Linked DNA regions of Homo sapiens: regions 1, 3 and 4 are each linked to region 2. Evidence: fine-mapped QTL for protein levels in blood plasma. A gene starts in region 2. Each other region holds a variant in brackets. All regions are shown on one strand. Distances are between the middles of the regions.

The links. PIP is the chance, under the fine-mapping model, that this variant and not a neighbour inherited with it causes the effect. The UK Biobank Pharma Proteomics Project read protein levels with antibody pairs (Olink). The fine-mapping took linkage between variants from a reference panel, not from the people measured, so its PIPs are less certain.
Region 1: its variant is fine-mapped to the plasma level of the MIF protein (UK Biobank, PIP above 0.99).
Region 3: its variant is fine-mapped to the plasma level of the MIF protein (UK Biobank, PIP above 0.99).
Region 4: its variant is fine-mapped to the plasma level of the MIF protein (UK Biobank, PIP above 0.99).

What each region holds. Positions count from the first base shown.
Region 1 is chr22:23,976,903-23,985,004 of GRCh38, forward strand. It overlaps a transcript of DDT not described here and the pseudogene GSTT2. Among named protein-coding and RNA genes, the nearest start is that of DDT, 6.5 kb to the left of the region's middle. The variant T/C (reference allele first, on the strand shown) is at 3,613.
Region 2 is chr22:23,886,746-23,894,830 of GRCh38, forward strand. MIF (macrophage migration inhibitory factor) reads left to right here and starts at 7,638. Exons shown (of 3, transcript NM_002415.2): 1 at 7,638-7,837; 2 at 8,027-8,085. The coding sequence starts at 7,730. MIF-AS1 (MIF antisense RNA 1) reads right to left here. Exons shown (of 3, transcript NR_038911.1): 3 at 6,965-8,085. RefSeq lists enhancers at 1,617-1,911, 7,313-8,085.
Region 3 is chr22:23,994,971-24,003,072 of GRCh38, forward strand. It overlaps GSTT4 (glutathione S-transferase theta 4), which reads right to left. Exons shown (of 5, transcript NM_001358664.2): 3 at 6,205-6,355; 4 at 5,105-5,281; 5 at 3,431-3,769. The coding sequence ends at 3,572. Among named protein-coding and RNA genes, the nearest start is that of GSTT4, 6.4 kb to the right of the region's middle. The variant G/A (reference allele first, on the strand shown) is at 4,086.
Region 4 is chr22:23,947,172-23,955,273 of GRCh38, forward strand. No RefSeq gene overlaps it. Among named protein-coding and RNA genes, the nearest start is that of GSTT2B, 10 kb to the right of the region's middle. RefSeq lists enhancers at 4,487-5,178, 5,179-5,870. The variant C/G (reference allele first, on the strand shown) is at 4,173.

The sequences.
Region 1 (8,102 bases), 90 kb after region 2:
AGATTCTCTTTAACAGCAGGTTCTACTGGAGGCAGGTCCTTGGCCTTCAGGACAGCTGGGAGGGCCTCCTGGAAGAAGTCCTCCCGCACTGCAGCCTCCACGTGTTGGGCACCATGCTGCCACCGTGGGTCTGCTTTCAAAGACTCAGCAGCCAGCACTGATGGGCTAGGGGAAGACAGAGTCAGCGGAGGGGCTGGGCATAGCCAAGTGTAAGGCAGCATGACCTGCTTTAGGGGTTCTCTGATTGGATTTTCCCTCCTCCACCATGTGTGTGATGGGCTAGGATGTCCCCCTCCCTGGGGACACTTGGAAGCCTCTTAATATAGCTGCGGTGAGGGGTTTGTAAAGCCCCATTTTATAGATGAGGACACTGAGGCTCAGAAGGAGAAGTGACTCACACAGGGTCCCACAGCCAGAAAAGACAACATGAGCTGGGATGTCAGCTCCCTTCCCGGATACACCACTGCCCAGCGGGCCACCGCACCCCATGGCACTCTCATGCCTCAGCTCCGTGATTGCCACCAAGCCAGCCACAGAGATACGGGGCCCAGTAAGGAAGGCCTGGTCCCGCAGGAACTTGTCCTCGAGCAGCTGCAGGCATCCGTCCAGCTCAGCCAAAGTGGCCGCCAACATCTCGGGTGGCACTGACTCGCCCAGGAACACAGGGATTATTATCTGGTGGGCCGACAGGCAGAGAGAGGGGTCAGGGTCTGCCCAAAGCCCATCCTGGTTCCCACCATCATCCTATCATCACCAGTCCTTGGGATTTCTGCTCACCTCTGCTCACTTCTTTCCACTCATAGCCACCAGTAGCTCTCATCTCCTACTCAAACAGGGACAGCCTCCCCCTTCTCCCTGGGTCCTCACACAAGGCAACCAGTGGGATCCTTCTGTAATCTCAATCTGCCCGTACCCTCTCTTGCATAAAGCCTTCCATGGCTCCCCACTGCCCTCATGAGAAAGGCCTCAACACAAAGCCAGCCTTCTCCAGTGCGGTAGCCATCCCCTCCCCACTTTTCACCTCACCTCCTACTACCCCCCACTTATCAAACGGGAATGTGTGTATGAATCCTCCCTGGAATCTGGTTACAGTTTATGCTCCCAATCAGTAAGGTCAGAGTGGGGCCTGAGCCTCTGCATTTCCAACAAGCTCCCTGGTGATGCTGATACTCCCAGTCCATTGACCACACTTTGGATAGGAAGAGTCTACACTTGCTCTACTCAACTTCTCTCCATTCTGTCCTCAAACACACCACGCTTCCTTCCCCACCAGCTGGAGGGGGCTCTGCTCCCAGGCCCCAGAGGTCAAGGCAGACACAGTTAAGGTGTGGAAACCTCCTTATTGCCCGATGGATCCTCCAGAGAGGCGGTCCCTTACTTTCAGCAGGGCGCGTGTCTACCTGTTTCATGCTGTCTCACACACAGGGTGCCACCCCTGTGCTGGGCACTGGGTAAGTGCTCTGTACATATTAATTAGGAGTACTCATTTCAAAAATATGTGTGCCTTTGATAAATAAAAACAGTATGTGCATGTTGTGTTGGTGTGTGCTTCCTTGATTATTACTGAAGTTAAACATGTTTTCATCCATGTATTGACCATTTCTCTTTGTCCTTCAATGAAACCTCTGCTGATTTCCTTCGCTCATTTTTTTCCTGTGTCTTCGTCTGATGAGTTTCTCTTCTTTTTGTTTGTTCGTTTGTTTGTTTTGAGACAGTCTCGCTCAGTGGCCCGGCTGGAGTGCAGTGGTATGATCTCAGCTCACTGAAACCTCTGCCTCCAAGGTTCAAGTGATTCTCCTGTCTCAGCCTCCCGAGTGTGCCACCGCACCCAGCTAATTTTTGTATTTTTAGTAGAGACGGGGCTTCACCGTGTTGCCCAGGCTGGTCTCAAACTCCTGACCTCAACTGATCCGCCCATCTCTGCCTCCCAAAGTACAGGGATTACAGGCGTGAACCACCACACCCTACCTGTCTGATGGGTTTCTAAGAACATCTTAAAGGACATTACTTCCTTCTGACGTATCTTTTACCGAGATCCTTCCCAGTTTTTTGCTTAAGGTTAATCCATTTTTTCCTCCACAAAGTAACCTTGTATATGTATTGGTTTTTTCTTTGTTGAGTTCTCCCACTGTTCTGAGGCTTAGAAAGTCCTTTCATACCCAGACATCAGAGAAACAGATCCCGTGAGAGTAACTGGGATTGCAGGTGTGGGCCAGCATGCCCTGTTATCACTCCCTTTCTCTGAGTCAGCTTTTCTCTCTCAGTCTCGTCTACTCCTCGAACTCAGGAAATGTCACTACAGGTGGCCCCAGCTCCCGTTTACCTCCCCATAGGGAGCTCCTCTCTCCAGTTCCAGTTTCAAAACTCCCAAGGAAGCATTCTGGTTCACTCGCTTGGGCCACTGGCCAGAGGGATGGGATACTCTGAAAGATTCAGCTAGAGTCCCGGGCCCAGCCCTGGACCATCACTGTGCCCCCTGGTGAGATGCCAGGGCTGGGATTCAGGGAGAAGAAAGGAGGTTCCCGGACAGTCATTCCTGCCTCCCGCGGCTGCGGGCTCCCTGCCCCCATCCTGTGCACGAAGTGGGAGCTCCCGCTGTCTGGCAGCTCCCGCTGTCTGGCAGCAGCTGCTCTGCAGGGGACAGTCTGGACGGCAGAAAGTTCATCCTTAACCCCAGCCTTCCAGTCAAGGTTCCCACCAGTTTGGGACACCTGCAAGTGTCACATCCCACTGGGTGAAACTCTAAGATCCCTTTTAGGGGATCCCATTCGCTCCCTCCCTTCCGCCACCATGCAGCGCCGAGAAACAGAGCTCTGAACGAACCCTCAGATGTCCGTGCGCTGGGGCCTTTCCAGGACGGCGGCGCCCAGTCGTTTCTGGGTCAGGGCGACGCCTGGAACTGGGCAGGGTCCCTGGCACCGGGATCCCGAAAAGCAGACCTGCTTCTCCCTGTCCAGCCGGTTCCCCTTCCCCTTGCAGTCGGCCCCCTGCATCCGCGTCCTCCCTGCCAGTCGAGGGTCCCCAGCTCCAACTCCACCCTCCCAGCTGTGCGTTCATAGCGACCGCCCTCCCTGTAGGGACGCACGGATCTGGTGGTGGAGTCTTGGCCGGCAGGACTGGACAGGAACCGAAGGGGCGAGGCGGGTCCGGGGGTGGTGCGCTCCAATTGGGTGCTGTCCCCAGGGGGTGGGGCCTGATCCCCTATTTCCCGGCGCGCCGGGATCCTGCCACAGCTGCTGCCCACACCGCGCTCAGCGCCTTCACTGCCATCCCCGCTGTCCTTGCCGCCCCCGCCATGGGCCTAGAGCTGTTTCTTGACCTGGTGTCCCAGCCCAGCCGCGCCGTCTACATCTTCGCCAAGAAGAATGGCATCCCCTTAGAGCTGCGCACCGTGGATTTGGTCAAAGGTGGGCCCAGCCCGTTTCCCCGCGTGTCCACAAACCCAGTGCACCCCCAGGCCCCCGCCCTGCTCTGCCCTGAGCGTCTCGCCGCCCGCACAGCCCCCTCACCTCCTCCTGCAGCGTCTGCCACCAGAGAATGCTGTGGACTGAGTGGCCTTGAAGGGATCACAGCCTCTCTGAACCTTAGCTTGCCTTCTGAAAAGGAGGATAA[T/C]GTTACCTTCTGCTCTGTAGGGATGGAAAGAAAATACTGAATGGAGTTGACAGAGTTCTTGCGTGGAATGCACGCATATAAATTCACAAAGCCCAGAAGACCTCGGGAAGAAGGACATACTGTTGTGAGAATTAAGAGATGGGAAGAGATGAGCCACCCCAGTTTGCCTCCCCTCCCCTGGCCCACCAGAGTCCGGCTAGAAAACTTCTCTTTATCCACCTGCTGCACCTGGCCCCACCCACCAAAACCCCCCAGCTGCCCCGGAATGTGGCAGGGCAGGGAGGCCCAGCCAGGGAGTGAGGCTGATCCAGGCCTCTAGTCCCAGACCTTGCTGTTTCTCAGGGCTGTGGGGCTCCGCTTGGGGAGGAGGAGGGAGGGTGTAGAGGTGCAGCGTTTTTACTCTGAAGACCTTTTCTGACTTCTTCTTCTTCAGGGCAGCACAAGAGCAAGGAGTTCTTGCAGATCAACAGCCTGGGGAAACTGCCGACGCTCAAGGATGGTGATTTCATCTTGACCGAAAGATGCCCTCCTTCCCTCACCCCTCACCGCATCCGGAGCCCATGTGACCTTGGCTCTCCCCACTGGCCCCGGGCCCCAATGGCCCTCCCATACCCCATGGGGCAGCGAGGGAGGGGAAAGGCGAGGGATCTGGCCGGGCGCGGTGGCTCACGCCTGTCATCCCGGCACTTCGGGAGGCCAAGGCGGGCGGATCACGAGGTCAGGAGACCGAGACCATCCTGGCTAACACCGTGAAACACCGTCTCTACTAAAAATGGAAAAAAAAATTAACCGGGCGTGGTGGCGGGCGTCTGTAGTCCCAGCTACTCTGGAGGCTGAGGCAGGAGAATGGTGTGAACCCAGGAGGCGGAGCTTGCAGTGTGCTGAGATCGCGCCACTGCACTCCAGCCTGGGCGACAGAGCTAGACTCCGTCTCAAAAAGGCCGGGCGCGGTGGTTTACGCCTGTAATCCCAGCACTTTGGGAGGCCGAGGTGGGCGGATCACGAGGTCAGGAGATCGAGACCATCCTGGCTAACACGGTGAAACCCTGTCTCTACTAAAAATACAAAACATTAGCAGGGCGTGGTGGCGGCCGCCTGTAGTCCCAGCTACTGGGGAGGCTGAGGCAGGAGAATGGCGTGAACTCAGGAGGCGGAGCTTGCAATGAGCAGAGGTCGCGCCACTGCACTCCAGCCTGGGTGACAGAGGGAGCCCACTCCAGCCTGGGCGACAGAGGGAGACTCCGTCTCAAAAAAAAAGGAAAGAAAGAAAGGAGAGGTATCTGGGGAGAAGGTACAGCTTGGGGTGTGTCCGGGATGAGCAGGGGCTGACAGAACATGTCCCCCCACCTCTCATCTTCAGCCTTTTCTGAGCCGCAGGGCCTCTCCACTCCCAGACTGAAGGGTATTAGAAGAGAAGACAAGGGAACATTTTTCCACTGTTGCGCATTTGTTCAACAAATGCTAGCTGAAAAGAGCCTCTAGTGACTTGTCGCAGACTACCCAATCTACCCAGGCCGGGCCTAGAGGCCAATGCCATGGCCCAAGGGCACAGCTCATGGTGAGGTCCAGCTGCTGGGCAGGAAAAGGACAAGAGGTCAGGTGGCTGCAGAGGTGATGGCTGGGGGCCTGTCAGACGGGGGCCAAAGACATTCCTCCCCTCGTGATCCCTGACCCAAGCGCGTGGACATGCAAGGGACTCCACGGAGCATCCACTGTGTGCCAGCCCCATGCAGGGTTCCAGGGGTCCAGGGAGCCTATTCTGAGCTGCACCGCCTCGGACAAGTCACTTGACCATTCTGACCTTGAGTTTTCTCTTGTGCTAAAAGGCTAACAGGAGTGTCTACCTCACAGGGCGGCTGCTGGCATATCACAGAGATGAGGTTCTCAAAATGCAAAGCAGAAGGTCCAGCCAAGAGTCGGTGCCCAAGGCAACAAAGACAGGAGGAGACTCGTAGGAGGAGGGGGTGGTGTTGGGGAGCTGGAGATGGAGGGCGAGGCTGGAGGGCAGTCCTTCAAATGCAGAGAAGCCCCCGGGCCCCACTGGCAGATGGGAGCAGTTAGGGGTAAATGCCTGGTGCCAGTGTCCTTATAGCCACTGCCCATTTGTTCCCAGCTCGGCCATCCTGATTTACCTGAGCTGTAAGTACCAGACGCCGGACCACTGGTATCCATCTGACCTGCAGGCTCGTGCCCGTGTTCATGAGTACCTGGGCTGGCATGCCGACTGCATCCGTGGCACCTTTGGTATACCCCTGTGGGTCCAGGTGAGGAGAGCCATCTGGAGAGTGATTGGCCATCAGGGAGTAGTTGGCAGTAGGCCGGGGCCATAGACTGACCCACTCTCTGCCCCCATCAGATGTTGGGGCCACTCATTGGGGTCCAGGTGCCCGAGGAGAAGGTGGAACGCAACAGGACTGCCATGGACCAGGCCCTGCAATGGCTGGAGGACAAGTTCCTGGGGGACAGGCCCTTCCTCGCTGGCCAGCAGGTGACACTGGCTGATCTCATGGCCCTGGAGGAGCTGATGCAGGTGTGAGCTCAGCCTGTGGGCAGTGTCCCTCTTCGTGTCACACCCATGAGGCAGACAGAAACACTGAGGCCTGGAGAAAGCCAGAACTTTGCCCAGAATCATAGAGCAAGTCTCTGGATGATCTGGGGCCAGAACCCTGAACTTCTGCCTCCTGCCTGGGTGTGGGGTCTCACCCTGGCTGCTCTTGGGCTCTAAGGCTGAACATACTGCCTGGGCCCCTGTGGTCCATTCACTTAGGGGCTGGGGAATGGACCATGTCTCTGATACTTCTGCCCATGGTTCCAGCATTCGGGTCGGCAGTGACAACTGGGAAAGTTGTATGCCCACAACTTTTTCATCCTTGTCCCTACAGCCGGTGGCTCTCGGCTATGAACTGTTTGAGGGACGGCCACGACTGGCAGCATGGCGTGGATGAGTGGAGGCTTTCCTGGGTGCTGAGCTATGCCAGGAGGCCCACAGCATCATCTTGAGCATCCTGGAACAGGCGGCCAAGAAAACCCTCCCAACACCCTCACCAGAGGCCTATCAGGCTATGCTGCTTCGAATCGCCAGGATCCCCTGAAGGGTCTGGGATGGGGGCCAGGAGATTAGCAACAAGGATTCATTCTGTTACTTACTTGCCCCTTTTTATCTTTCCCTCTTGCCCCAGTCCCTTCTCTCCAGCTTCATGTGAAGCTCTGCACAGACAAGACACTCAGTGTCCTTGGCAGTGCTGCTACTCCTCAGGTGCAGCATACATAACCAGTAAGAGACTAAATCTGCAATATATAAAGAGCTCCTACAAATCAGTAACATGAAGAACACTCAAAAATTGGCAAATGTCATCAGTGTTTTAAACAGAATAAAGATTCCAAACACTTTGAATAGAGAACCAAGAGTTATTGGTTTTACTACATTGTTGTGTTATACATATGGAGTAAAAGTATGTGCTAGTAATCCTCATCATGGTTAATAACAAAGTAACCTCACAATAACGAGTCAACATAATTGTATCACCAGGGCAACAAAATGTTAAGTAAGTAACCAATTCGAATTGCAAACTGTTAAAGGATATAGGCGATGTTTCACAGGGCATAGCAACGGTCTTTGAAGTCTAGGAAACTTAAAAGATTTCTTTTAACAAGCATTCATGTCTTCTAGGACAGTTTTGTAATAACTGCAAATAGTAAGATTATACATTGTCACACAGACCTCCATGTATATCCATGGGATGGACCCCACCACAATGATTTTAACGGAGAGAACTTGATATAAAGAATTGGTAACCAGGCATTAGAGAACTCCGAAGACAGAGAGAATCCAGATTAACACGGAGGTAAACACTGCAAGAAGCTACCACCCCTAGGGCTGGGGGATCAAGGGAGGAATTAGGAAGACCAAGATGCTGGAGGGGCCCTGAAGAATTCAAACCTCCAAGAAAGGTGTTGCTCATCCCCCCTAGCATCACCTTCCAAGAAGGGCAGGTTTCCCCAGTTTGCCCTGAGGTCTTCACAGGAGGCCATGTGGCTGTGGATGCAGTTCTCAAATGTGACAGTAGATGTCACTGCTGACCAATAAACAGGATGTTCCAGACACACACTGCGCTACCTGCCCACATGTCTTGTGGCTTTGGGGCCTATTTCCCATGCCTGACCTGTGCCCACCATGTGCCACTCTATTGGGGGACCTGCCCCAATAATCACGTAGATTGTTTCCTATTTTTCCTAAGTGTCGGCCGGCTTGAGAAATAAAGGGACAGAGTACAAAAGAGAGAAATTGTAAAGCTGTGCATCCGGGGGAGACGTCACACGTTGGTAGGATCTGTGATGCCCCACAAGCCACAAAAACCAGCAAGTTTTTATTAGGGATTTTCAAAAGGGGAGGGAGTGTGCAAATAGGTGTGAGTGACAGACATCAAGTACTTAACAGGGTAATAGAATATCACAAGGCAAGTGGAGGCAGGGCGAGATCACAGGATCAC
Region 2 (8,085 bases):
TTAATAATAAATGTATATTTAACTGTATAAAAATTGTTTTCCAAAGTGGTTGATTATATTGTTTCACATTCTCATTAATAATGTATGAGTTCTGGATACTCCAGATCCTCATCAGCACTTGGTATTGTCAGTCTCTTCAATTTAGCCATTCTAGTGAGTGTGTAGTGGTATCTTGTCATTTAATTGTGGTATTTCCCTAATGACTAATAATGTTTGACATCTTTTCATGTGCTCAGTATGGCCATTTGTGGGTTTTCTTTTATGAATAATTTGTTCAAATATTTTGTCTACTTTTTTTTGTTGTTGTTGTTGAGACAGGGTTCTCTGTCGCCCAGGCTGGAGGGCAGTGGAATGAACTCAGCTCATTGCAACCTCTGCCTCCTGGACTCAAGCGATCCTCCCACCTCAGCCCCCCAAGTAGGTGGGACCACAGGCGTGAGCCACCATGCCCTGCTAATTTTTGTATTTTTGGTAGAGATGGGATTTTGCCATGTTGGCCAGGCAAGTTTCAAACTCCTGACATCAAGTGATCCACCCACCTTGGCTTCCCAAAGTGCTGGGATTACAGGCATGAGCCACCGCACCCAGCCCTTATCTGCTATTTTTATCAGGTTGGTTGTCATTATTTTTTAAATGTGGGCATTTTTTATACATTCTGGAAGCTAGTACTTTGTTAAATATATAGTATTGTAAATATTTTCCTGCAGTCCGTAGCTTGCCTTTTTTATTTTCTTAATGCTACCTAAGAGCAGAATTTTTTTTTTTTTTTTTTTTTTGGAGATGGAATCTCGCTCTGTCACCCAGGCTGGAGTGCAGTGGCGCGATCTCGGCTCACTGCAGCCCTGCCTCCTGGGTTTAAGCAATTCTCCTGCCTCAACCTCCTGAGTAGCTGGGACTACAGGCACGTGCTGCCATGCTCTGCTCATTTTTTTGTATTTTTAGTAGAGACGGGGTTTCACCATGTTGGCCAGGATGGTCTTGATCTCCTGACCTCGTGACCTGCTCGCCTCGGCCTCCCAAAGTGCTGGGATTACAGGCGTGAGCCACCTGGCCCGGCCGAACAGAAATTTTTATTTTGGTAAAGTTTGATTTATCAGTTTTTGGTTTTTGTGATTCATGCTTTTTGTGCCATAAGATATCTTTGCCTATCCCAATGTTGCAAAGATTTTCTTCCAAATGTTGGATAGTTTTAGCTTTTACACTTATGTTGCTGATGATGAATTTCAAGTTAATTTTTGGGTATGGTGTGAGGGGCTGAGGTTCCTTTTTTTTGGGTGGGTGGGGGGAACAGGGTCTCACTGTGTGTTGCCTAGACTGGAGTGCAAGTGACGTGATCTCAGCTCACTGCAACCTCTACCTTCCAGACTCAAGCAATCCTCCCACCTCAGCCTCCTAAGTAGCTGGGACTACAGATGCGTGCCACCATGCCTGGCTAATTTTTTTTTTTTTTTTTTTGAGATGGAGTCTTGCTCTTTCGCCCAGGCAGGACTGCAGTGGCACTATCTCGGCTCACTGCAACCTCTGCCTCCCGGGTTCACGCCATTCTCTTGCCTCAGCCTCCCGAGTAGCTGGGACTGCAGGCGCCCGCCACCGCGCCCGGCTAGCCTGGCTAATTTTTGTTTTGTTTTGTTTTATTGTTTTTCTTTGTTTTTTTGTAGAGACAGGCTTTTGCCATGTTGTTCAGACTGTTCCTGAACTCATGGACTCAAGCCGTTCGTTTGCCAAAGTGCTGGGATTACAGGAATGAGTCACCATGACTGGCCCTTTTTTCTTTTCTTTCTTTTTTTTTGAAATGGCTATCTGGTCGTACCAGTACCATTTGCTTTAAAAAAAGCCATTTTTTCTTCATTATTTTACTTTGGTGCCTAAATAAAGAAAATCAGTGGACTATTGTTGTATAAGAAAGAATTTGGCTTTTGTCAGGAAACAGTGACTGTTAAAGAGAAGTGGTGGGGCTGTGGGTTCTCTGGGGAGAGAGAAATCTCTGGGTCAGGGTGTCAGTAGAGGTCTCAGGGAGAAGGTGACTCTGAGCTGGCTTCCTAAGGATAGGCTCAGCTGGGGGCCTTTTAAAAGCTAGAGCCTTGGTGGCATGTGCCTGTAGTCCCAGCTACTTGGGAGGCTGAGGTGGGAGGATCTCTGGAGCCCAAGAGTTGGAGATTACAGTGAGCTATGATTGCACCAGTGCACTCCAGCCTGGGCCACAGAGCGAGGCCTTGTTTCTACCAAAAAAAGAAAAAAAAAAAAAAAAAAGCTGGAGCCACTGGGAGGCAGCAGCGTTGCAGGATGGGAATGAAGCTACCGTGTCCAGTCACTGTGGAGTCTTCAGGAGGCAGGGGCAGCCCTCCCAGGAGCCCTGTGTGTGGTCACTCTGCCCCTCTGTGTCCATCCACCCTGATCCTGCCTCTGTTGACCTGCTCCCCAGCTTACCTTTGTGCTCCAAATGGCTTCCCTGGCCGCCCTGGCTGCAGACCTCCAACGTGGAGTCATGAGTAAGAATCCATTGACAAGCACCCCTGAGATCCTGGGGTACGTGCCACGAGCAGAGCAGGCATCAGGTGACACCCAGGTCCCGGCCTGCCTCGGACACACATGGTGCCCCGGTCCCCAGCCTGAGCCCTGCCCTCTCACTCACCACCCACCCAGCCGGAATTGGCTCTGGCCACTCTGGGAGGGCGGGGTGGGGGTTGCAAGTCCCTTGTTACGCAGGGAGCCCCTCAGTTAGGGAGAGGAGACAGGGTCTCAGGACAGGACCTTGAAGACAAGGAAGGGCAGTGCAGAGAGGGGTGAGAGAGCCAGACTGGGTTTCTAGGGGGTGGTCCAGGGTGGGAGCTGACCTGCCTCTGCTGAGACTGCGTTCCAGGTGTGAGCATTGATGTCTAGCCCATGTAGCTGGAGAGGAGTCACAGCCATGCTCCCCAGCTCCAGCCCACCTCCCCAGACCCCAGACCCAGTGTGGCCTCTCCCCACCTCCCAGAGCATGTGGTCAAGCCCCTCTCCTAGCCCGAATCCCTCCCTCATTTGCTAATTACCAGGACCTACATGTCCCAGCTTCCCAGGGCCAGGGGACAGGGCCCCGCCCATCTGGCAGGCTCAAGTTGGCTGCCTGGCTGCCGGGATCCAGGCGGCGCTCACAAGGATCTGGGCTTGCACAGCCTCCAAAGGGCTGTTGTCCATTCTCTTGTATTTGTTCTCATCCTCTCCTTTCTTGGACCCTCTGAGTCTCTGGTTCCCTCTTGTTGGGACCCAGATCACTCTGTGCCTCAGCTGAATCATTTTTCCCTTCAGTTTACACATATCCACCTAGGGTCCACTACATCCAGAGGCTTCCGCCTCAGTCCTTGTCCTCAGGCTGTGCCCAGGGTTGTGAGGATGGCGGTGGTCCTTACCTTGCAAAACAGTCTCCCAGTGACAACAATGTTCAGGGATAACATCTATGGAGGGCTTTCTATGTATCAGGACCATTCTGAGTATCTTCCAAGTGTTAGCTCCTTTAATCCTGGAAAGGACCCCATGAAATTAGTACTTTTATTACCCCTGTTGTACATATGAGAGACTGAGTAAAAGCCGGTGGCTTGTCCAGGGTCACACAGCTAACTGGAATGGCCAGGAGTAGACCTGGTGACCATGGACCCCAGACCTTGATCACTGCACACGCTGCGTCTGGGACCTCGCCTGGTACCTGAGGTCCGTGGCGCGCTGGTGCTGATCATTCAGAGTGCTCATGGGAAGTGTAGTCTAGAGTCTGTGTGCTTCCTGATCTCCTTGATCTCCATTTTATTGAGGAGGCCTTTAGGCCACCCGAGGGGTCCAGAGTGACCCTGTGGATTAGCAGTGGAGCTCAGCTTGAGCCAGCGCTCTTCAGGGGTCGTGTTCTGCCCCCATTCTCTGGTTCATTCTGCAGGTAGCAGGGAATCATTGAAGATTAGAGAGAATCAAACACCTGGAGAGAGATGACTCTGCCCGGGGAGCCCAGGCTCCTGTCTGGGTGCACACTCCAGGGCTAGATGGTGACTTCTCAGCTACTCTAGCTTCATAGGCTCATAGTGCATGTGAGCACTCATGTGGACACACGTGCACGCGCACACACATGGACACACACACACACACACACACCGCTGTCTTTGGAATCAGACCATGAAAATGCTTCCTCAGAGGCCTAGGGGTGAGGAAGCTGAGGTGAGTTGTGCCTCCAGCTGGATGTGCTGGGATGGGGTGGGAGATGAGGTGGCCACACCTGGGTGGCAGGAACTCTGGGGCAGTGAACCTTCTAACGAACAGATCTGGGATGCTGCCATGAGGAGGAAGAGGGAGTCAGCAGCCATGCCTGCCAATGCCTCCTAGCGCATTTGTCCATGGTTAGCGGATAATTATTGTGTCCCTATGGGTCCCAAGGTGTATTATTTTTTTTTTGCTCTTATAATAAATCAACACAAATTTTTAGCAGCTTCAAACAACACGCATTTATTATCTCACAGTTTCTGTGGGTCAGTAGTCCGGCGTGACATGACTAGGTCTTCTGTGTAAGGACTCGCATGGCCAAAGTCAAGGTATCTGAAGGGACAAGGGAAAAATCCACTTCCAAGTTCAATCTGGTTGTGAGCAGAATTCAGTTCCTTGTGGTTGTACCATGAGGTCTCTGGTCCCCTTCATCTTCAAAGCCGGTAATGGACATCGAGTGTTTCTCTTGCTTGGAATCTGGCACTCTAGCTGGAGAAAATTATCTGCTTTTAAGAGTTCATGTGATTAGATTGGGTGTACCCAGATGCTCCATGCTAATCTCCCTATTATGCACAGATGCATAATCCTAATTGCATCTGTGAAGTGCTTTTTGCCAGGTAACATGGCATACTTGTAGGTTCCAGGGATTAGTGCTTGTCCTCCCCCTGCTATTCTTTAGTGGGCAGGGGGTCATCTGCCTACCACGGAGGTAAGGGGTCAGGAGGTATGCATACAGCAATGCCCAAAAAGAGACTGTCCCCACTGGGATGGAGTTTACCGCCTAGACATGCAGTCTTAACTCAGAAATATGGAGATAGCCTCGAAGGACAGGACAGGTACTGGGCACGTGTGGGAATGGACCAAGCCAGGTGCTCCGGGGGCTTTCCCAAGGAACTAAGGCTGAGCCAAGAACTGAAGGATGAGTTGGAGTCAGATGAGGGAAAATGTGGGCAAACTGGATTTCAGAACCAACCCCCAACCCTGGAGCCAGGAGCCATGGTACTGAAGGACAGTGCGCCATAACTCAGAGAACCAGGGAGGGTTGGCGGAGGCTCACAGGGACCGGGTTACCCCAGGGCCTTGTGACAGTACTACCCCTAGTATCAGAGGAGACTGTCATTGGCATTTAGGCCACTTGGTGCTCATAACACCTCTATGTCAGGTGAACACTATTGTCATCCCCAAATTACAGATGGGGAAAGTGAGCCAAATGTCCATGCTAGTAAGAGGCAAATCATATCACTTCTTTGGGTACCCTTCTAGAAGGATGAGGCTGACTGCCACTGGAAACAGCTGGGGAGGGTACAAGGAGATGACAAGTGGCTCAGAGGCTGTCCTGGCTATAAGAATTAAAGAGGAAAGAAACACCAAGGGTGGCTCGACAGTCAACAAGGACAGGTTTATTTTGGAAAACAAACTTGAGAGGGGCTTCTGGCCAAGTTAGGTCAGAGCCACACTCTCTTACAAACTAAGGATATTTAAGGGTTTTGGAGGGGGTTCTTATCATAGGTTCTGAATGTTTCTGTGTGAGGGAAAGTTTATTGCGGGGATGGAATGTCTCTGGTCAGAAGGGAGGCTGTCTCCGGGTTGGCATGTTTCTGGTCAGAGAAGGGTTTATCTTAGGGTTGGAATGTTTCTGGTTATGCTGACATTAGCTATTAGGCTGATATTTTCGGGCTGGATTTAGGCGGCTTTTAATTAAGGGGGAACTTAGAATGGTGGTGTTTGTTCAAGATGGCAATGCTCCTGCTCCGTCACTGGCCAGGTAAGGCAACCCTTTGTTATGGTAACAACCTGAGATTGGCAGGGGCTCACCTCCAGGGGCAGCTCATGTGCTTGCTGGCGAGGCTGCACCTTGTCATTCAGGTTCACAGGGCACAGGTCAACCAGGCCCTGGCTCTTCAGTCTTCTGCCTGGAGTGACTTATGTAATTCTGCTCAGCTTTCATAGGGCACAGGGAGTCGGGGCTAACTCTGCTGCCTGGGGCTGGAAACAGACTCCTCCCTTGAGGAGCAGCAGTCCACCATAGGGAAGTCACAGTGGTCCAGGCCAAAGGGGATGCAGGTAGTGTAGACTAGGCGGTAGTTCAGGGAATGGAGAGAAGTGGGAATAAAGGGATAGTGAAAGGAAGCATATTTTACTGGCAGGTGATGAGGTGTAGGAGGACAAGTCATACATTTGGACTTTACAGAGCAGTGGACACTCAGTCAGCTGCTGTCAGCGCCTGGGACTTAGGGGAGTGCCCCTGGCTGGAGACATGGTATGGAGTGCCATCAGTTAGGGAGCCCTGGGCACAGGTAAGAGAAGGTGTGACACCAGGAGGGAAAGAGTCTGGGGCCCAGCTGCAGGAACCAATACCCATAGGCTATTTGTATAAATGGGCCATGGGGCCTCCCAGCTGGAGGCTGGCTGGTGCCACGAGGGTCCCACAGGCATGGGTGTCCTTCCTATATCACATGGCCTTCACTGAGACTGGTATATGGATTGCACCTATCAGAGACCAAGGACAGGACCTCCCTGGAAATCTCTGAGGACCTGGCCTGTGATCCAGTTGCTGCCTTGTCCTCTTCCTGCTATGTCATGGCTTATCTTCTTTCACCCATTCATTCATTCATTCATTCAGCAGTATTAGTCAATGTCTCTTGTATGCCTGGCACCTGCTAGATGGTCCCCGAGTTTACCATTAGTGGAAAAGACATTTAAGAAATTCACCAAGGGCTCTATGAGAGGCCATACACGGTGGACCTGACTAGGGTGTGGCTTCCCTGAGGAGCTGAAGTTGCCCAGAGGCCCAGAGAAGGGGAGCTGAGCACGTTTGAACCACTGAACCTGCTCTGGACCTCGCCTCCTTCCCTTCGGTGCCTCCCAGCATCCTATCCTCTTTAAAGAGCAGGGGTTCAGGGAAGTTCCCTGGATGGTGATTCGCAGGGGCAGCTCCCCTCTCACCTGCCGCGATGACTACCCCGCCCCATCTCAAACACACAAGCTCACGCATGCGGGACTGGAGCCCTTGAGGACATGTGGCCCAAAGACAGGAGGTACAGGGGCTCAGTGCGTGCAGTGGAATGAACTGGGCTTCATCTCTGGAAGGGTAAGGGGCCATCTTCCGGGTTCACCGCCGCATCCCCACCCCCGGCACAGCGCCTCCTGGCGACTAACATCGGTGACTTAGTGAAAGGACTAAGAAAGACCCGAGGCGAGGCCGGAACAGGCCGATTTCTAGCCGCCAAGTGGAGAACAGGTTGGAGCGGTGCGCCGGGCTTAGCGGCGGTTGCTGGAGGAACGGGCGGAGTCGCCCAGGGTCCTGCCCTGCGGGGGTCGAGCCGAGGCAGGCGGTGACTTCCCCACTCGGGGCGGAGCCGCAGCCTCGCGGGGGCGGGGCCTGGCGCCGGCGGTGGCGTCACAAAAGGCGGGACCACAGTGGTGTCCGAGAAGTCAGGCACGTAGCTCAGCGGCGGCCGCGGCGCGTGCGTCTGTGCCTCTGCGCGGGTCTCCTGGTCCTTCTGCCATCATGCCGATGTTCATCGTAAACACCAACGTGCCCCGCGCCTCCGTGCCGGACGGGTTCCTCTCCGAGCTCACCCAGCAGCTGGCGCAGGCCACCGGCAAGCCCCCCCAGGTTTGCCGGGAGGGGACAGGAAGAGGGGGGTGCCCACCGGACGAGGGGTTCCGCGCTGGGAGCTGGGGAGGCGACTCCTGAACGGAGCTGGGGGGCGGGGCGGGGGGAGGACGGTGGCTCGGGCCCGAAGTGGACGTTCGGGGCCCGACGAGGTCGCTGGGGCGGGCTGACCGCGCCCTTTCCTCGCAGTACATCGCGGTGCACGTGGTCCCGGACCAGCTCATGGCCTTCGGCGGCTCCAGCGAGCC
Region 3 (8,102 bases), 110 kb after region 2:
TAGTTATCAGATAGATTTGTGTTCCCATCTAGCTCCAATGAGGGAGAGGATTTGCTCTAGTCTGTCCCTCTGGGCTCTGGGCTTCTAATGGGCAGACAGCTTCCTCCATGATGTTTGTAGCTGTTAAGGCTGGCGTAGTCCCTCAAGACAAGTTTTTTTTTTGTTTGTTTGTTTTTTTTTTGAGTCAGAGTATCGCTCTGTCACCAGGCTGGAGTACAGTGGTGCGATCTTGGCTCACTGCAATCTCTGCTTCCCGGATTCAAGCGATTCTCCTGCCTCAGCCTCCTGAGTAGCTGGGATTACAGGCATACGCCACCACACCCAGCTAATTTTAAGACAAGCTTTTGGAATTGAACTGCTGATGGTCTTCCATGAACAATTCAACAGAAACCCAGTAGCGTACACTTCCTTGTATGCACTTGCACCCTCTCTTTACATTTATTACACATTTAATGCTACCTAATAATTCCCTATACTTTTACTTTATCCAATCGTTCAACAGATTCCAACCGAAATACATAGAAGAGTGATATTCCAACTTCATCAGACCCTGAGATTCTATTTTTAACATTTCTTCCATGGATTGTTGAATGTTTCCAATGATTGATCCACCTTCCCTTGGCCTTTTCTACATTACAGATTTGGTGGCATGTCCATGTCTATGTTGCCAAACTTGCCTCATAGACCCAGCTTGAACACAAGATGGGTGCTTGCTGAAGAGCAGGACTCATTCTGTTGAACCTGCATGTTTTCTCAGGTCAGATTGCTTGGTGGCGCTTCTTTAATTTCTTTCAACAGCACATTGTAGTTTGCTGTGTTGAAATGTTGCTTTTCTTTGGTTAAATTTATTCTATTTTATTCTTTTTGATGGTATTATAAATGGAAGTGTGGTTTTAATTTTGTTTTTCATCCTTTATTGCAAATGTATACTATTGATTTTTGTGTATTAATCTTGTACCCTGCAACCTTGCTGAACTTATTTTATTTTATTGAGATGGAGTCTCAGTCAGTCACCCAGGCTGGAGTGCAGTGGCTTGATCTTGGCACACTGCAACCTCCACCTCCTGGGCTCTGGTGATTCTCCTGCCTTTGCCTCCTGAGTAGCTGGGACTACAGGCATGCGCCACCACGCCCGGCTAATTTTTGTATTTTTAGTAGAGACGGGGTTTCACCATATTGGACAGGCTGGTCTCAAACTTCTGACCTCATGATCTGCCCGCCTTGGCCTCCCAAAGTGCTGGGATTACAGGTGTGAGCCACCGTGCCCAGCCTTGAACTTGTTTATTAGCTCTAATGGTTTTTAAGTGAGTTAAGAATTTCTGTAATGTCATCTGTGAATAGAGATGGTTTTACTTCTTTCTTTCTGATCTAGATTCCACCTTGTTCCTTTTTCTTGCCTAATTGCCCTAATAAGTAGAAGTAGTGTGAATGAACATTCTTGTCCTGTTCCTGATCTTAGGGGGGAAACGCTTGATCTTTCACAATGGATGAAGTATGGTGTTAGTTATAGGTTTTTCATAGATGCTTTTTGTCAAGTTGAGGAAGTTCCTTTCTCGTCTTCATCTGCTGAGTAATTTTATCGTAAAAGGATGTTAGGTTTTGTCAAATGCCTTCTGTGCATTAGGATGATCATGTGACTTTCTATTAACATGGTATGCTACACTGATTGATTTTTGTATGTTGAACTGCATTTGTACTCCTGGGATAAATCCTACCTGGTCAAGGTGTATGATCCTTTTAATATGCTGCTGGATTTGATTTGCTAATATTTTGCTGAGGATTTTTACATCTATATTTATAAGGATATTGCTTTGTAACTTTATTTTCTTGTAATGTCTTTTTCTGTCTTTGGTATCAGAGTAATTCTGGCCTCATAGTATGAGTTGAAAAATATTTCTTCCTGTTTTATTTTTTTGGAAGAGTTTGTGAAGGCTTTGTGTTAGTTCTTCAAGCTTTTGGTTGAATTCACCAGGGAAGCCATCTGGTCCTGGGCTTTTCTTTGTGGAATTTTTAAAAATAATTAATATTTTAATCTCTTTATTTGTTACAGGCCTATTAAAATTTTATCTTTCTTCTTAAGTCAGTTTTGGTAGATTGTGTGTTTCTAAAATTTTCCCATTTCATCTAGGTTGTCTAAATTGTCCACATATAGTTATTCATAGTATTTCTAAACTTTTGAATTTCTCTATGACCAATGTGATGTCTCCATTTTCTTTCTTTCTGGTTTCCATTTCATTTTTTCATTTTTGTTTTTGTTTGTTTTTTGAGATAAGGTTCTTCTATGTGCCCAGGCTGGAGTGCAGTGGTGCAATCATAGCTCGGTGTAACCTTGAACTCTTGGACTCGAGTGATCCTCCCACCTCGGCCACCCAGTTAGCTAAGACTACAGGCTTGCACCACCACACCAAGCTAATTTTTTTAAAAAATATATTTTTTAGAAAAAAGTCTCATTGTGTTACCCAGGCTGTTCTCAATCTCCTGGCCTCAAGTGATCCTTCTGCCTCTGCTTTCCAAAGTGCTGGGATTGCAGGTGTGAGCCATTGCACCCAGCCTCCACTTTCTTTCTTGGTGAATAATTTGACCCTTATTTTTTTCACTTGGCTATTCTAAGTAAAGGTTTGCCAATTTTGTTGATCTTTGCAAAGATCCAATTTTTGGTTTTATTGATTTTATTGCTTTTCTATTTTCTATTTCATTTATCTCCATTCTAATCTTTATTATTTCCTGTTTTCTAGTGGTGTTGGGTTGAGTTTGCTCTTATTTTTCTAGTTCCTTAAGGTGTAAAGTTAGGTTATTGATTCAAGATCATTCTTCTTTAACTTATGTGTTTACAGCTATAAATTTTGCTCTTAGAACTGCTTCTGCTGCATCCTATAAATCTGGGCATGTTGTGTTTTCATTTTTATTTGTTCAGGATACTTTTTGATGTCCCTTGTGATTTCTTCTTTAACCCATTTGTTGTTTAAGAGTGTGCTGTTTAATTTCTATGTGCTTGTGAGTTTTCTAGTTTTCCTTCTGTTCTTGATTTTTAACTTTATTCCACTGTGTCCAGAGAACATACTTTGTGTGATTTCAATCATCTTAAATTTGAGACTTAGGACCAAATATATGCTCTATACTGGAGAATATTCCATGTGCTCTTTAGAAGAATGCTTATTCTGCTCCTGTCGGGTGGAACGTTCTGTTCATGTCTAGTGTATGCGATTGGTTAATCGTGCTTTTCAAATTCCCTATTTCCTTGATGGTCTTCTGTAGTTTTTCTATTACTGAAAGTGGGGTATTGAAGTCACCAACTATTATTACTCACAATGTAACCATATTTAACCCTTTACTTTTAAAATTCTTTTTGGAAACTGGAAGGATCTGTAACCACCACCCACTCCCACATCAGACCCTATGCATATGCCAACTGTCTGCTGCTCAGCAGCTGTGATGGTTGTTCCAGTTCTTTATTAGGCAAAGAACAGTTGTTTTTTTGTTTTTTTGTTTTTTTTTTTTTAACATTTCCTTTAAGGAAGGTGGCTCAGATTGCTAAGCCAGCCAGGCCCTGCGGGACAGGCTGCGCCTAGGGTCACCTGCTCTTCTTCAGCAACTCAGAAATATTCTCCTTGACCATTGAATCCAATGTTGAAAAGTCCCAGTCGGCCAACTGCATTAGTCGATCATGGGCCTCCCTAAAGAGGCCAGAGCCAATATTCAGCTCCACCTGCATACGCCACTCAGCTAGCTTGGAGCTGTTGAGGAAGACATTATAGTTGGCTGCCATGGGCTGTAGATAGACGAAGACAAAGACGTGGTCAGCCTGGGGACCAGCCCCACCTGGGTCCTCTCCCACAGCCTCAGGCCCACGTCCCTAACATCTACCTATGCAAAGAATTAGGCTGCTGACCCCCAAGGCCTGAGCAAGGGGTCACAGACTATGTAATAGATGTAGGTGGGGATGGAGGATCCAGAATCCCTCAGAGTCCTCAGTCACTGGTCTTCTTGCTCCAAGCCTTCTGAACCATGCTGAGAGGGCTCCTGGCCCAGGCACTTCCCACTTCTCCAGCCTGCGACCTCGCATGAATCCTGCCTTCTTCCAGGGA[G/A]ACCCCTTATCCCAGGTGTGTATATGTGGATGAGGGAGAGAACTCAGGTTTTTTCCTCCATGTTTAGCCTCCCACTGTGATCAAGCTCAGGGGCTAGGATGGGAGACCTGGCGGGCAGTCTACCCTGCAGTTTCGCTGGCTTACTAAGAGTTTGGTTTGCACCCAAGATCTTTGGGAAGCCCAAGAATGGGTGTGTGTGGGTGAAATGTAAGGGGTGGGGACGAAGCATATGGCTGAACCCTTGGGGCAGGCCAGAATGATTTTTCCTGGTGCTGGTCTGCCCTGCAAACAGACCAAGGAGACTAATTTTCATATCAGCCAGAGATCTCTGGGATAAGGAAAAGAATACTGCATTTTCTGGTCAATCCACCAGGACCCCAGGTCCCTCCTCTCGGGCATATCTCTGGCTGATATGCAAATTAGTCTCTTTGGTCAGTGTGCAGTGCCCTAGCTGGTGTGCAGGATGGCCAGTTGAGACCCTGGCCAGTGTCTTGACAAGCAGAACTGGTCACCCTCCCCTGCATGTAGAGGCCACATAAATGCCCCACACTCAGGTGTGCCTCCAAATGCACAGTGGATGCCCCTCAGACCCAGCCACGAGAGCTGTCCTCCAGAGCTGTCTGTCTGGAGCTCTGGGAAACAGGCAGGGCCAGAAGGACACCCAGGAAGCCAGTGAACATTTCCTGGAGAGTCCAGCAAGAGGAGGAGGTATCTGGGATGCCGGTGGATTGAGCAGGAAATGCAGTGTTCTTCTCTATCCCAGGCTCACCCTCCGGGTCCTCCCACACCGAAGAATCTTTGTCAAGTGTGGAGAACTGTGATCCTTCCTGATTCATAACATTCTGTGCTTCCTGTTGCCCCGATTGAGTCCAGGCCCCCAGGCCTGGTTCCCGCAGCCCCCATGGCAGCTCTGCCTGCCTTTCCCGCCTCACCAGCCTATCCTCAAGTGATGGCCCCATTGGTCACAGAGGAGTCCTACCTCTGCCCAGGGTCTAACCCTCCTCCAATCCACTCCACACCTGCATCATCTCCACCACGGCCACCAGGTCAGCCAGTGAGATTTGGTTCCCGGTGATGAACATCTTATCCTGCAGAAAATACTCCTCAAAGAGCTGCAGGCTGTTCTTCACCTCTTCCACTGCATGCTCCATCTTCTCAGCTGAAACTTCCTCCCCTGTTATCTTTGGGATCAGCAACTGGCCAGGGTTGGGAAGAGGAGGGAAGAGGAGGCTGCACTCCAGGGCCACCTGCCCTGCCAGGTCTCTGTACTCTTGTCTGCTGGATAGATATTGAACACTTCCCAGGATATAAAGCAGTTTCACCTCTTTTAGCAGTTCTGATTGGTGGAAGTTGCTGGGAACCATGTGTTCACAAGGATTTGGGGAGCTCAGCAGGCATAAGTCCTGTGATTGATTAGTGATGTCTGTCACAGGCATAGAATTCAAAGTAGAGACACATGTACTGGTTATTTGTCATCTTCTAATTTTCTATAGGCCATACTCTTTTTTGTTTTTGTTTTTTGAGATGGAGTCTCACTCTGTCGCCCAGGCTGGAGTGCAGTGGCACAATCTTGGCTCACTGCCAACTCCAACTCCTGGGTTCAAGCAATTGTCCTGCCTCAGCGTCCTGAGTAGCTGGGATTACAGGTGCCCATCACCACACCCAGCTAATAATTTTGTATTTTTAGTAGAGATGGTGTTTCACAATGTTGGCAAGGTAGGTCTTGAACTCCTGACCTCAAGTGATCTGCCCGCCTCGGCCTCCCAAAGTACTGGGATTACAGTTGTGAGCCACCGTACCCGGCCTTCTGTGGGCCTTTTGACGCTGAGATTCTCTAGTTCAGAATGAAATGCCTCGAATGCTGTCCTGGGTGAGTCACATCAGCCCCTCCCGTATGCCCTTCCCCTCGCCCTAATAAGACTCTTTCATGCCCATTGTTTCAGTCCACACTCCTGACGGCTCTGTAAGGCGGGCAGGAGAAGGAGCTGAGGAAATGAGGCCCAGAGAGGGAGGGAGACTTGCTTGAGGTCGCCGGCAGTCAGCAGGGCCAGAACTGGCCTCCAGCCTTCCTGACTTCCCTGTGCCCGTGTCCCCAAGCCCCAGAAGTGGCCCTGCTCACCTTGAGCCAGACTATCTTCTTCATGGGCAGCTGAAAGGCCGTGTGTTGCCAAGCCACGAACTCATCCACACGGGCACGTGCGTGCGGGTCTGGCGGGCACCAGTGCGATGGTGCGCTGTACTTGCGGCACAGGTAGTAAAGGATGGCCGCGCTGCAGAAGGGGCCGGTCAGGGGCACTGCCCTTGCCTTCCTGAGTGCCACTACATCAACCACCCCGGTGTGGCCTGGGCCCAACTGCTGGGGCTTCCAGAGCAAAGAGGAGCCCAAACGGCCCCGAGAAAGACCTTCACCAGAGCTGTCTGTCTGACAGTCAGTAAGGGCTGGGAAGGAGCCCTGCGGGGTGAGTAGGAGTTGGGGGCTGGTGGTATAACAAAGAGTAGGCCAGCAGGGGGAACAACACGTGTTGAATTGGGATGCTGAGGTGGGAGGATCACTTGATCCCAGGAATTTGGGGCTACTGTGAGCCAAGATCACACCACTGCACTCCAGCTTGGGTGAAAGATCAAGATCCTTTTTCAAAAACAAAAACGGGGGGGCACGATGGCTCACACCTGTAATCCCGGCACTTTGGGAGGCCAATGGGGGCAGATCCCTTGAGGCCAGGAGTTGGAGACCAGCCTGGCCAACATGGTGAAACCCTGTCTCTACTAAAATGAAAATACAAAAATTAGCTAGTTGTGGTGGCACACACCTGTAATCCCAGCTACTTGGGAAGCTGAGGCACGGGAGTCACTTGAACCTGGGAGGCAGAGGTTGTAGTGAGCCAAGATTGTGCCACTGTACTCCAGCCTGGGCCACAGAGCAAGACTCTGTCTCAAAAAACCAACAAAGAAAAACACATGCTGAAATACGAGGGTAAAGGGAGCAAGGTAAATCTGAAGAAAAGAGAGTAGGGGGTTGCAACTGGAAGAAGGGTGGGGGTGATTGGGGAGTGATGAGGCAGCCAGAGACACTGTGGAGTCCACGTAGGGTAGCCCCTGGAGGTGCAGGGAGGTTATGGACTTAATGCTTAAGATTAGGCATTATATAAGCCAGGGCATGAAAGGATCCATCTCTCTGGTGCTGGATGGAGGGTGAGCCCGAGGGGGCAGAATGGACAATGAGGGGGCCAGCAACTATCGGGAAGGTTGTGGTGTCTGGGAATGTTGGAGGCCATGGGGACAGAGGGAAGGGGATGGAGGGGAGACATGCTTCGGAGGGGATGTCCTAGGCCTTGCTGATTGATGGCTGGTGTGGGAACCTCCGCAGAACAAGGGCTCCTTTATCATCACCAGCAGCAACCATGCCAAGGTAAAAAGGTCAGGGCATGGAGAGAGCTATCGGTTAAAAAGTGGCAGGAGAGACAGCAACTGGCTGCAAGACTCAGAACTTCTTGGCTGGGCACGGTGGCTCACGCCTGTAATCCCAGCACTCTGGGAGGCCGAGGCGGGGGGATCATGGGGTCAGGAGATCGAGACCATCCTGGTTAACACAGTGAAACCCCGTCTCTACTAAAAATACAAAAAAATTAGCCAGGCATGGTGGCGGGCACCTGTAGTCCCAGCTACTCAGGAGGCTGAGGCAGGAGAATGGCGTGAACCCGGGAGGCGGAGCTTGCAGTGAGCCAAGATAGCGCCACTGCACTCCAGCCTGGGCAACAGAGCGAGACTCCGTCTCAAAAAAAAAAAAAAAAAAAACTTCTTTGGATCCTGATCCAAACAAACTGCCAAGAAAATGTTTAGGAGATAATCATAGAGTTTTGAACAGGAGCCACATATTAGATGAAATCCAGGAATTATTGTTAATTTTATGAGGTATCTTAATGGTATCGTAGTGATGCTACGCTCTATCCTAGCCCAGGCTGGAGTGCAGTGGCGCAATCAGAGTTCACTGCAGTTCTGAACTTCCTGGCCTCAAGC
Region 4 (8,102 bases), 60 kb after region 2:
TATGAATCATAAATTGTGGCTCTTTTTATTCTGAAGTGTAGAAATTGAATATTATAGCTCAAAATATAAAACAAAAACAAAGAAAGCTAAAAGCCCTTCCATTTGGCCATCTTGGAGTAAGACCTACCACAGTCCAGTGCCTTTTACTCAGCCCCACAGCCTAGCCTATTGTTTACATGAAACCCTGTAGCTTCCACTCCTGTTTGGTGGGTGTAAAGTTATGAGTGACCATATTGGGGGAAGGGAGGAAAACTCCCCATAAACGTGTATCCTGGGGGCCTAAGGAGAGACGATGGCCCAGGTATCAGAACATGATATGCCTACTTGTCCCTATCTCCTTGTCCACACATAAGGCTTGGAAGGCAGCCATGTTGTATATCACGTGATCTCCAACCAATGAGCTGATTGGCTTCTTCAACAAGAGCCCAGGTAGAGATTGGTGTCTAGAGGAGCCCATCAGATTCTAGAGAATCAGGCCTTTGGCAGTGGAAACTCCCCTGGGAGGATGTCATAGGGTCCTCAGGGTCAGACACAGAGAGAAGGAGACATTGGGACAGAGAGAAGAGGCAAGAAAAAAACATATCTTGCAGTCTGTGAGGAACAGAGTGGCCCCCAGGGGCCTCCACCTCAGGTTCTGGATCAAAGCTCCTCAAAGTTTAAGGTGCATTTGGATCACCTGAGGATCTTATGAAAATAAACTCTGTCTGATTCAGTAGGTCTGGGTTTGGGGGTGGGAGCCTGTTAGTATATTTCTAACAAGCTCCCAGGCAAGGCTGCTACTGCTGCTGATCTAATGACCACAGTTTGAGGCTGGACAGAGTGGCTCACACCTGTAATCCCAACACTTTGGGAGGACAAGGCAGGAGGGTCTCTTGAGGGTAGAACTTTGAGACCAGCCTGGGCAACACAGCAGGACCTCGTCTCTAAAAAACAAGAGAGAAGAAGAAAAAGGAAACAACAAGAAGACTCAACTAGAGTAGGAAGCAGTTAGGCCACATATCTCTTCAATGGAGAAAAGAGCTTTTTCTTGAGTAAATTGGAGTGTACCCATGTTCCTTGTCAATGATGGTAACTTTAAATGTCAAGAATGTGAGAGAGGCCAGGGGTGGTGGATCACACCTATAATCCCAGCACTGTGGGGGGCTGAGGTGGGAGGATCACTTGAGCCAAGGAATTCGGGAGCACCCTGGGAAACAAAGTGCGACCCCGTCTCTACAAAGTCAAAAAATTAGCCCAGACTGGTGGCATGCGCATGTGGTCTGAGCTACATGGGAGGGTGAGGCAGAAGGATTGTTTGAGCCCAGGTTGAGGCTGCAGTAAGCTAAGTTTGTACCACTGCACTCATTCCAGCCTGGGCAACAGCAAGACCCTGTCTCGAAAAAAAAAAAAAAAAAAGAATAGTAGAGCCCAGGGGAAGGTGTGGCCCTGGGGTAGGCGCTGGGAGACTGGAGAACAACTGTTAGTGGTCCCATCACTGCCCAGAGCAGACAGTGCCCTGTCCACCCTCATGAGATCTTTGAACTCCTTGGACAGGACTGGCTATAAATGAAAATGTGGGGACCCTTATTTTTAACTTGTTAAGAATGTTAAGATGGCAACAGCAAAGCTTTAAACCAAGTGCATGGCCCTTCTGCGTTGTAGGCCCACAAGGCCGACACTGCTATTCACATCCTTGTATGGTCCCCTACCCTGGAGCGTGGCTGGGGCCTGTGCTCTACTGCTTGGAAGCAAGGCTTATCCCTAAGCCTTATTTTCGGGAAGGTGGATTTGAGAGCTACTATCCCACATCCTTGCTTGGTGCCCTGTGAATAAATCTTTTCTCTTTTGCAAAACTCGTGTCATGGTGATTAATTTACTGTGCAATGCCAGGCACTGTTGGAAACCTCTGGATAGGCCTCACAGGGCCTCAGCCATCTCGGGGAGGCGTTAGCTAGAGTGTAACAAATATGACCCCAGCAACTGGGGAGGGACAGCTCATTCCTTCATGAGGTGTGGGGCTGGCAGCCCCGCAGGCAGTCAGCCACCCTTCCTCTCTGGCCTCCGTCCTGGGCACTGGGCCCAGGCACTGGGCAAGGAGGCTGCTGCACCTCCTTTCTCCTCTTCCTTTTTTTTTATTTTTTGAGACGGAGTATGGCTCTGCCGCCCAGGCTGGAGTGCAGTGGCGTGAGCTCGGCTCACTGCAAGCTCCGCCTCCCGGGTTCACGCCATTCTCCTGCCCCAGCCTCCCGAGTAGCTGGGACTACAGGCGCCCGCCACCCCGCCCGGCTAATTTTTTGTATTTTTAGTAGAGACGGGTTTCACCGTTTTAGCCAGTATGGTCTCGATCTCCTGACCTCGTGATCCGCCCCCCTCGGTATCCCAAAGTGCTGGGATTACAGGCGTGAGCCACCGCGCCCAGCCTCTCCTCTTCCCTTTTAGTGGGAAATATACCTGCAGCCTAGATTCCCAGAAAGGGGTGGTGAGAGAGCAGACACGCCACTGATTGACCCGAAGTTCTAGGAGCCAAGGGATGAGTGAAGAGGGCGTGGCCGGACTCGGGGCTCCTGGTGAGGTGCACCGCTGCAGGCTCGGTGACCCAGCAGTTCCTGCCCAACCCTCACCTACCCCCAGCCGTTCCTGTCCGCCGCCCCCAACCAGCCATTCCTGCCCGCAGTTCCTGTTCCCGGGCCTGTCCCCGGGTTTGTCCCCAGGGCCCGTCCCCTGGGTTTAGGTCTGCCCTCCCACGCCCCACCCCATTGCCCCCGCCATGGGTCTGCTGTCCCAGCCCTGCCGTTCAGTCTACATCTTCGCCAAGAATGGCATCCCCTTCGAGCTTCGCACAGTGGAGCTGACCAAAGCTGGGCTGGGCAGGCAGGCCCAGGGGATATTGGCCGCGGATCCCTGCCTGTCCCCGCTGCTTTGCAGTTGGGCCAAGAATGCAGACTAACACGAAGAATCAGACTCTCCGGTGTGGAAACTATTACATAATTATCTATGTTATTATTTTTACTTTTTGGAGACAGCATCTAACTCTGTCACTCAGGCTGGAGTGCAGTGGCACAATCATGGCTCACTGCAGCCTCGACCTTCCAGGCTTAAGCGATCCTCCCGCCTCAGCCCCTCAAGTAGCTGGGACTACAGGTGCCCACCGACATGCCTGGCCAATTTATTATTATTATTATTATTGAGAGGAGGTCTTGCTGTGTTTCCGAGGCTGGCCTAGAACTCCTGGGCTCAAGTGATCCTCTTGCCTTGGCCTCCCAAAGTGTTGGGATTACAAGCATGAGCCGCCATGCCCCACTGGTTGTCTATTTTAATAGAGGCTTGATCTTTGCTTGTGAATACAAAACATTCTTCAAAATACAGGTTTAGAGAGGGCACAGCAGGCACAGAACGAGGGTAGGGAAATGGAGTGGGGCAAGAATATCTTCACCCCATGTGCTTGGAAAAAACAATGAAACTGCCTCGTTGTTTCCTAAGTAAAATAGTCCCTGTCTACCCCTGCCTGTGTCTCTTCCACTTTTGTATTATTTGTTTGTTTATTTATTTATTTATTTATTTATTTATTTATTTATTTATTTATTACAGTGTCTCAATCTGCAGCCCAGGCTAGAGGGCAGTGGCATGATCCCGGCTCACTGCAGCCTTGACCTCTCAGGATCAAGTGATCCTCCCAACTTACTCCTCCTAAGTAGAATAGTTGGGACTACAGGCACGTCCCCGTGCCCAGCTACTTTTTTCTTTGGTGTGTGTAGACGCATGATTTTGCCATGTAGACCAGGCTGACCTTGAACTCCTGAGCTCAAGTGATCCTCCTGCCTCCTCCTTCTAAAGTGTTGAGATCACAGACATGCACCACCATGTCTGGCCCTGGGTCTCTTCCACTTTTATGTATTTCTTGGCATTCTTCTGCCTTTTCCTTTTCCTGCATCTGACTTGCTCTATCCCATGGGGCTTCTCACCCAGCTGAAGGGGCTACTCCTAGAGGCTAGAGGCTGGAGGGCCCTGTGGCAGGGCAGTGGGGGAGGCCAGCACCCTCACCCTGAGCTCCAGCGTTTGCTGGTCTGGCTGGCATACAGAGATGCAGCTGGAGCACAATTCAGTGGAGGAGGCAGGGCTATAACTAAGCAGTAGGGCAGAGAGCAGAGCCAGAGCCCCCTGGGCAGGCCAGAGGGAGGACCCTGCTCAGCTGA[C/G]TCTTCCCAACTGCTGCCCTTGGTACAACCAGCTTGAGTCACCTGCTACAGAACAGGGGCTGGACACAGAAGCAGTCTGTGGAGGGAGAATGGGCAGGGGTGTGTATGTCCATTCAGTAGAAGGGCAAAGAGGCCCACATGTAGGCCTATGATCAGACTGGAGCCTGGCTTGACTGAGGTCCTCTGATCCAAACACCAGGCACCTAATGCGGCCTCTAGCACTGGCCTAGAGTGCTAAAGTGAGTCAGACCTGGGAACCCCCACTGGGGAGGGAGCCTTGAGAGTTTGGCATAAGAAAGCAAGAAGAGCTGAGCCACCGGAGGCTAAGTAGCTGAATGGGGCAGGGATTCCCAGCAAGAATGAGGTTGGTCTGAGGGTTGGGAACATGTTTGGCTGGGACTCTGGGGTATTGACAGGTCACCCAGCCTGGCCAGTAGGGCCTAAGTCCCCAGCTGGGATAGGAAGCTGAATCAGAGGGGGCAAGCCTAGAGCCCAGGGAGGAGGCTGGAGGGGTCTGACCTATGGATGGAACTGGCTGGGGGTGGGGTGTGAATTACAGCTCCAGGGAATTGTCCTTGAGCCATGCTTCAAGGAGCTGGACACAGGAAAGATGGCCCTCTGATGGGGTCAAGGTCTGTGACCCAGTGACTAGCAGAGAGGCTTCCTCTTCCCTGATGCCTCCCAGATAGGGGCCTCAGAAAGCTGCTGCTGGGATTTTGGGGTGGGGGTGGGCAGAGACCTCAGAGAACTCTGGGTTATCCCCACTCACCTCTCTGATCTTTCCTGCAGGCCAGCAGCACAGCGATGCCTTTGCCCAGGTGAACCCCCTGAGGAAGGTGCCGGGCCTTGAAGGATGGGGACTTCACCTTGGCTGAGAGGTAACCGGTCCGTGGGCTGCTGCCGGGCCTTGTGGGGCCAGTCGGCTGTCTGTTCACTGTTGATGGCTTGGATCATGGACTGTGGGCCCTGCACCAGCCCCAGGGTGAAGAATGGGTGGAGGCAGGCAGAGGTGCCCAGTGTTGACAAGGGTTATAGAAGTCCCCTCCTGCATTGTACAAGTGAGGAAACTGAGGCTGGAGGAGGGGAGGGACTTGCACAAGGCCACAGGGCCCAGTCTGCTTCCGGGCCTCCTCACCGCCAGCCTTCCCCTCCGAAAAAAGGAGAGTGCTAAGTTTCGAGGAGCGGCTGTACCAGGCATCTTAGTGCTACCATTTTGCCCACAAATCCTGTGGGGCAAGTGCTGTTTCCCTGGAGAGTCGAGGGACCACTCAGCGAGCTTCAGTGGCTATTTGCTAAACATCCACCAGGGCCAGACCCCATTTAAGCCCTGGGGCTTGAGCAGTGAACGTGTCTGCGTCCTTCTCCTCATGGATCTCACATTCCATTAATAGAAGGGGGAGCTGACAGTAACCCATGTAAACATGGAACATATCGGATGTTGATGGATGCCATGGAAAAAATAAACAGGGTAAGAGTGGGGGTGTGTGTCATTATGAGTAGGATGCTGAGGGAAGACTCCCTGGAGGAGGTGGCATCTGAGCAGGGAGCTGTAGGAATGTGCAAGGCATGAGGAGAAGGGTGTTCTCACTGGAGGGAAGAGTGAGGGCGAAGGCTCCAGGTGGGACAATGCATGGGGTTCAGACTGGAGAGCAACGGGCCAGGGTGGGTGCAGTGAGCAGGAAGAGCAGGAGGTCACGACAGAGGGGAGCATGGGACACTGGGAAGGCTTTGGCTCTTACCGCAGGTGGATTGAGTTGTTGGAGAGTTTTGAGCAGAGGAGAACTGTGATCTGACTTACGTCGTAAAGGATCCCCCTGGCAGGGGTGAGAAAGCCACTGCAGTCATCTGGCATGCAGCGCTGGAGCCCCAGACCAAGGTGGTGGTGGTGCAGGGTTGCGGGGGATTGTGGTCAGTTCTGACTTTTATTGAAATCTAACTGCAGGGTTTGCTGAAGGGTTGGAGGTGGGTGGGAAAAATGAAAGCCAAAACCAGCCTCCAGGTTGGTGGCCGCATGGTGGCGTCCTTTACCGAGGCCACATAGTGCCTCCTTGGTGGAGCTGGATTCACATTCAGAGCCTGGGATCACTGGATGGTCCAACACCCATAAAGGCATGATGAGCTCTGAGGGTCAGACTGCACAACCCTTCACCATAGGTGAACGGGAGTTGGGACAGGGTGGGAAGCAATGCTGCCATGTCACCTGGAAGGCTCTGTCCCTGCTGGCCTTGCTCCTGGCCCTGTCCACACTTTGGATATGTTGGGGAGATATCCAACATGCTCTCGTTCTTCAGACTCACACTGGGTGCCCCTTCCTCCTGGAAGCCTTCCCTGAGCCCCTGCTGAAGTTCATGACATTTTGTTTCTTCCTTGCTGCCCTTAGTTGAGATGACAGTCTGGCCCCGTGTAGGGCTGTGTGACCCTGGGTAGTTACCTAACCTCTCTGAGCCTCACATCCCTCCTCTGCATCATGGGGATAGTGAAAATGCCCCAGAAAACGGTTGAAGAGTGTTCAGGGCATGTCTTCTGCCCCTGCCATGTCCCCCCAGTGTGGCTAGCTTGCTCTATATGAGCTGCATGTACAAAGCACCTGACCACTGGTACCTCCAGGACCTGCAGGCCCGCGCCCATGGGGATCAGTACCTGTCATGGCAGCACATGGCCCTGCAGAGTAGCTGCTGCTGGGCCATGTGGCAGACGGTGAGCCATGGAGGGCAGGGACACCTCCCGGGATGCCCAAGGGATGCTGCTTTCACTTTACAAAATTCTGTTTAGACCTGAGACCAAATCCTGGAATGCCAGAGACTGCCTAATTCACCCAACTTGTTTCATAGGAGGGAAACCAAGGACCAGAGCCAAGGAAGGATTCCCCTAATGTGCCTTAATTCCACAGCTACCACCTGCACACTTACACTCACACACTGTTCGACACACAGCCACACTCACACACACATCCACCCACGTCCACCCACAGTCACACGATGTATCACATTCACACGTATACACCCACACACACAATCATAACATTTACACACAGTCACACAGTTAACTCCTATACACACATATACACCCACACAATCACACAACTCACTCATATTCAACAAAGTCACACAACTCACTCACATTGACACACATACACACCAACCCCACACACAATTCACATACATACACACACATATACACCCACATACACAACCACACCATTCACTGACATTAATACAAAGTCATCACACAGTTCACTCCCACACACACACATACACCTCACACACACAGGCACACAATTCACACCAACAAAATCACACAGTTCACTCATTCACACACATACACCCACATACACAAATTCACACTGCTCAGTCACATTTACACACCATTCAAATTCACACACATATACACCTACATACACACAGTTCACTCACATCACACACATATACACCCACATACACACAGTTCACTCACATCACACACATATACACCCACACATAAACACAGTCACACAATTCACTCACGTTCACACACACAGTTCACTGACATTCGCACACATACACACACACCACACACAGGCAATTCAGTCACATGGCCGAAAGCCAGTCCTTACCTTCCTATAGTTCCTTTCCCAGTGTCACCTCAGCCTTTGGCCCTCAGCGTCCCCTTCCCATGCCTGGACTGCGGAAGAGCCCTGAACACACCCCATCTTCATGCCTCCAGCGCTAGCCCGAGCCCTTCCCTCTGCCAAGAGCACTAAGTGCAACTCAAGATCACTTCTAGGGACCCTTCCCTGCCCCTGCTGCCAGGTGACCTGAGGATCCTGCTGGTCCCGCTTGACAATGATGCACAGCATGGTTAGTTCAGCTGAGGTCGCTCTCCCAGACTTACTGCCACCTACACAGCACTAGGACTGACTGTTTAACTTTATTCTTTATTTCGTGTACTTTA